Linked DNA regions of Homo sapiens: region 1 is linked to region 2. Evidence: fine-mapped expression QTL. A gene starts in region 2. The other region holds a variant in brackets. All regions are shown on one strand. Distances are between the middles of the regions. Region 1 has its middle 1.6 kb from the start of EFNA2. Region 2 holds the start of POLRMT (RNA polymerase mitochondrial).

Region 1 (2,892 bases), 650 kb after region 2:
CATGGCTGGATGGGGGTGGGGATTTTCATGTTACCCACTGGAGAAAGGGATACATTTTTATTTTCAAGGACAGCGACCCAGCCCAGGGGAAACGCCCCTGGCCCCTGGGGCTAAGCGCAGACCCCAGCTCCGTGCTTCGCAGGTGGGGGGCGATGGACAGCGGTGGGGCTCCCGCCCTGAGTGGAGCCTGTGACCTGCCCGGGCCCCAGCGCCCCGTGACCCCTGCCGCCTGATCCTTGCCTGGCTGAGATGGGGCTTCTGAAGGCTGCCGGCACCAGGGCAGGCAGCGCATTGGGTCCAATTTATTCTGTAATGAGAAATTCTCCCCGCATATTTTTAGCTTCCTCCTGGCGTCGCGGCCTTTGAAGGCTGAGGGGCTGCGGGACGCTGATCCCAAGCCCTGTGGCCTGGCCATGTGGGCAGTGGGTGCTGGGCACGGGCTGGACAAGTCCCTTCCTGAGTCTGGGTAGACCCCAGTCCCAGCAGTGCAGAGCAGGGGGCGGGGCCAGACCCCATCAAGCCCTGTACTGGCTCCAGACCAGGGACTGAGGGCGACCCTGGATAACCCCTGACCTTGGCGGACACCTGTTCCCAGAGTGAGCCTGATTTCTGACCCTTGGCTCCACAGGAAGCTTACTCTAGAGTGACCTCCGGCCGCGGCTGCGTCCCAAAGCCGGGACAGCTCCCAGCCCCAGGAGGGAACAGGGCTTCTTGGACCCCCACAGTGGCCCCCCTGCCAGGCAGGGGTTTGCCGGGGCAGCCTCGCCCAGGGCCAGGCCTCGGAGACGCCCTGCCCTCCCCTCCCTTCCCCAGGTCCTTCCTCTAGGAGCGGCCAGCGGGCGCGGGGAGGTTGAATGGGGGACGCACCGCCTTTGTTCCCGTCCCTGCTTGGGCTCTGACCTTGAGAGAGACAAGAACAGAAGGAAAACGGAGCTTCTGCTCAAATCCGTTCAGCGGTGGCGGTGGTGGCGGCTCTCGCCTCGGTGGCCCCTGCATGCAAATGAGTGGCCCTGCCATGCCTGGGTGGAGGTGGTGCCCTTCCAGCTCCCACCTGTGCAGGTCCCAGTCCTGGTTTGAGAAGAGACCCCCTCCTCCCGACCCTGGCCCACCCCTCCTCACCCACGAGATCCCTTGAAGCAGGAGGGGGCTTCTGGTCCCAGGGTAGAAGGAAGCTTCCAGAACTCCCACCTTTGCCAGGTGGCATGCTGGGGCCGGGCACGCCAAGACCCCAGGCTCACGGCCCCTTGTCCTGTGCTTGGGTGCAGCCGCCACACTCTGCTCC[G/A]AAAGTGCTCACCTCCGGGAGTGGCCGTCCCCCTCCCTAAAAGAGCCCCCCACCAGACGGAGCCGCCCGGGAAGCTTCTCCAGCCTGTCTGGGCTACAGAGCCTTGTGTGGCTAGAACCCAAGGCCCTCACTCCAGGGGTGCTGAGAGAGCCTGTCCAGAGGGCCTGCCTCAGCCACCACCTGGGACAGGTTCACGCCCTCCACTGAAGAGACACCCGGCCAGCCCTGGGCCTTCGACCTGGGACGTCTGTAGTGGGGTCAGGGGATGAGACCTGGAGCTCAGAACAGACGGGCTGAGCTCCCTGGAGGAGAGAGAACTGAGAACCTTGTCCTGGCAGGGACGCTAGAGCACTGGGTGGGACAGACCTTTCTGGAAGAGCAAGATTTTAACAGGAAGAAAAAGTGGAAGGACTTCCCAGCAGGACCCAGCCTGAACAAAGGTCAGGTGGTGTGGCCCGCGTGGCCCGCTGGGGAATCGGGGGAGGAGGGCACGCAGGAGACACAGGACAGAGCCCACCACGTCTCAGAGCTGTGGGACGGTGGTGGGTCCGGTCCCCACCCCACCTTGCTGGGGCACAGGTTAGCTTGCCCATCTCTGGGTTCACGGTCCCTGCCAGGAGTTTGGGTAATGCCTCACACAGGGACCTTCGGGTCCAAGGGCTGTTGGTGCTTGCCCTGCAGTTCCCTCTCCTGCACTGGGCCTGGTGAATGACACTAATTCAGAGACGTACAACACGATCTGGGCATCGCCAGCAAAGTCCAGCCAGCGTTTGATGACAGCCTACCCTCCACAAGCTCAGAGTCTGGTGAGGGAGGCTGTGGCATGAATAAGGGCAAAAACAGAGGGCAGGCCAGGTGCAGTGGCTCACGCCTGTAATCCTAGCACTTTGGGAAGCCCAGGTGGGAAGATCGCCTGAGCCCAGGAGTTCAAGACCAGCGTGGCCAACATGGCCAGACACTGTCTCTATAGATTGGAAAAAAGACAAAGCAGAGGCCAGGCCCCCAGTTCCCCACCTGTGTCAGCCTACCAGGAGGAGAAATCACTCGGCGTTCCCTGAACAGATCAGACCCCGGGTCTTTGCACAAGCTGTGCCCCCGGGCAGCGGCCCTCCCCTGCCTGCAGGATTCGTGCGTGGAGACTGATTTGCTGTCGGCCGGGGCTTCACTCTGGGCTTCTTGGATCCCATCCCCAGCTGCTCACACTCCACATCGGTCCACCTACTATGCTCCCGGCACCCTTAGGGCTGAGGTGTAGGGACTTACTCCATCCCCAGGGAACAGCGTGGGTCCGGAGAGGCGACTCCCAGGAGGGCCCCAGGGAGGTCGCAGCCCGAGCAGCTTTGGACTTTGGCCAGCGCCCCTCTGAAACTCTGCCCCGGCCCCCGCAGGGAGACTGGAGTTGGCCGAGCCCGATTTGGGACGCGTGCGTCGGGGTTGGTGAGGCTGCGGATAGCGCTGGAACCGGGCAGGTGAGAGGCCCGGGACCCAGGGCCGGGCCGGGTGGAGCGCGTGGGGGCGCGGGAGGCAGGGTGCGCCCCCGCCCCTCGGAGACCCCAGGCCGGGCCACGCGGATGCCGGCGGGGGGCGCGCAGAATCGGGGTCGCTGGGGG
Region 2 (2,836 bases):
CATGTTGGCCAGGCTGGTCTTGAACTCATGACCTCTTGATCCGCCCGCCTCGGCCTCCCAAAGTGCTGGGATTACAGGCGTGAGCCACCGCACCAGGCCTCGGACCCTTGACCTCTTGATCCGCCCACCTTGGCCACCCAAAAGTGCTGGGAGTACAGGCGTGAGCCACCGCACCAGGCCTCGAACCCCCGACCTCTTGATCCGCCCACCTCGGCCACCCAAAAGTGCTGGGATTACAGGCGTGAGCCACCGCACCTGGCCAGGTTTTTTCCCTTTATAAAGGTTCTCCCGCCTCTCCCTTCCCGGCTGCCTAATGGACGCAGACAGGATGTGGGACAGAAGCACCGGCGGGAAGCAAGCACAGGGAAGCTCCCACCTCCCTCCCACACCACCAGCCAGGCCAGGACGAGGGCCTGCCACCGCTGGAGCCTGGGCTGTCCCTCCCAAGTTTCGCAGTCATCCAGTCTCCATTAGGCGCCTACCCCCCAGAGCCAAGCCAGGACAGCTGAGTCAGTTCAGGGTTCACATCCTGGCTCTGCACATGTGGCCTTGGCGGCGGGGCCGGGGGGGGGGTCTCTCCAGACATAATCTTGGGCCTCACCTATGTCCCTGGAAAGTGGGAGCACCTGGTGGGGTTCTGGGGAGGGGGAATTACGAGAGCTCCAGGAAGGAGCCTGCTCAGCAAGGACAGGGCCCATGAGCGGTGCAAGAGATGTTTCAGCAACGCCGTCTGGGCGTGTCCTGGGACCCGAGAGGTGGAGACCGCCCTCAGCCTGTCTCAGAATCTGAGCCTTTGCCTTTTCTCCCGGCAGCAGGGAGCGGACTCTCCTCTCCCGGGCCGCCGTGGGGGTCGCGCTCACCCTCCAGCAGCTCCACGTGGCCCCAGTCCTTCCTGCGGTCTTGGTCTTGCTCCTGGGGGCTGGCGGACGAGCTCCTCCTGGGGCCGCAGACGCCACCGGCGGTCCCTGCGGGAAAGACGAGAGCGGCTGAGCGGGGCCGGGCGTGTGGGCGGGGGCCTCCATAAAGGCAGAAGCCGAAGGGTCGAAGGGCAAAGGAGCCCTAAACGCAGCGGAAACTCTCGGAGCACGGGCTTAAGTTGGAAAGAAACTAAGACAGCGAAGGTGGAAGGGCCCCGCCGCGGCGAACACGGGCGCGGAACCGCCGAGAGAGGGTTCCTCGCACTCGAGGTGCAGCAGGTCAAAGGTTAAGAGCCCTAAACACCACACCTGGGGTCAGGAGGCTGCATAAGAAACCACGAGTCAAAGGTCAGACTGCACGGAGGAGCCTCAGTCGAAAAGCGGGCAAGGGCGAGTGGAAAGCGGGGCCGGGTCGGTGGGCTGCGCACGCCCAGGTGCAAAGAGGCAAAGGTCAAAGCGCCAAAGGCCCCGGCCGCGCGGGGAGGAGCCCACGCCGTGGCCCCCGGGCTGCCTGGCCGTCTCCCTTTGTGTTACCTTCTTTGCCGGGGAGTCCCGGGCGGCCGCAAGGCCGTAGGGCTCGTTTGAGCCCCGCCGCTCCGCGGCCCCAGCAAAGTGCCGACATTACGCACGCCGCTCCAGGCCACCCCACCGGCCCGCGCCTGCGCATGCGCCCGCGCCGCCTGCCGGGAGTTGTGGTTTCATGGTCGACGGAGGCTGCGAAGGGAAACCCCAGCCGGAAGTAGACTCCCAGGATGCAGCGGAGGCGCGAAGGCATGCGCCGGTGGACGCTCTGATTGGTTCCTCCTGCTGTTTTTAAAGGGAGGGGGCGGGACAGAGCTGTTGCCGTGGCAACTGGGAGGCACTCTCAGGCTGTTTTCCCGAGGACCTCAAATCCGGACTTTTTTTCTGTTTTTCTTTCTTTTTTGGTTTTGTTTTGGACGCGTTGTGGCCCAGGCTGGAGTGCAGTGGCGTGATCATAGCTCAGTGCAGCTTCGAACTGCTGGGGTAAAGAGATCCTCGCCCCTCGGCTTCCCAAAGCGCTGGGATTGCAGACGCCGCCACCGTGCCCGGCTTTTTTTTTTTTTTTTTCAAGGCATACTCATCTAATAACGAGGACAGCATCTGCAATTTAGAGATTCCTGTCCGCAACCTTCATTGCTCCAACGACAACTTTTGGGTAAGAGTCATTAGGATGCCGTCTATCATGGAGGAAGCTGAGGCTCAGAGAGGGCCACCAAGTTGCTGGAAGACACAGCACGTGCGACCTCAGGGAGGCTGCAAGGAGAGAAAGCCCCAGTCCGCGAGACTCCCAGCCTCCAGCTTCAGTTTACCCTCCAATCCCCAAGCCCTCAGGGGCAGGAGCCGAATGGAGCGGCAGGCTTGGATTCACCTGCTAAGTGGGGTGAGGTCAAGGGAATGAAATAAACCTCGGAGCCTAGAGCCTGCCCTGGTCTCCGCGTGATCCTGCCTAGGAGGAGCAGGGCGGGAGCTTTAGAATGGAACCTGGAAGGTGTGCCCACCTGTGTCGTTCAGCCGGGGCAGCAGGCCAGAGGCGGGAGCGCCTGCTGTGGGGCAGTAGGCTTGGGAAGGGTGAGAATAGGAATATCTGGGGGTAACTGTGTTCCAGGCTAATATCCCAGTTGCAAAGGGGAGCTGGTTTGGTGGCTCAGGCCTGTCATCCCAGCACTTTGGGAGGCTGAGGCGGGCGGATCACCTAAGGTCAGAGTTCGAGACCAGCTTGGCAAATACGCAAGCATGCCTGGCAACATGGCAAAACCCCGTCTCTAGTAAAAATACAAAAATTATCCGGGGGTGGTGGCGGGCACCTGTAATCCCAGCTACTCGGGAGGCTGAGGCAGGAGAATCGCTTGAACCCGGGAGGCGGAGGTTGCAGTGAGCCAAGATCTCGCCACTGCACT

Evidence for each region.
Region 1: its variant is fine-mapped to the expression of POLRMT in fibroblasts (GTEx, PIP above 0.99).

The regions. Positions count from the first base shown.
Region 1 is chr19:1,282,835-1,285,726 of GRCh38, forward strand. It overlaps a transcript of EFNA2 not described here. Among named protein-coding and RNA genes, the nearest start is that of EFNA2, 1.6 kb to the right of the region's middle. RefSeq lists enhancers at 1-599, 2,123-2,623, 2,624-2,892. The variant G/A (reference allele first, on the strand shown) is at 1,283.
Region 2 is chr19:631,974-634,809 of GRCh38, forward strand. It overlaps POLRMT (RNA polymerase mitochondrial), which reads right to left and starts at 1,564. Exons shown (of 21, transcript NM_005035.4): 1 at 1,452-1,564; 2 at 861-965. The coding sequence starts at 1,539. LOC105372234 (a long non-coding RNA gene) reads left to right here and starts at 1,491. Exons shown (of 2, transcript XR_936226.2): 1 at 1,491-1,922; 2 at 2,011-2,836. RefSeq lists silencers at 1,348-1,507, 1,518-1,777.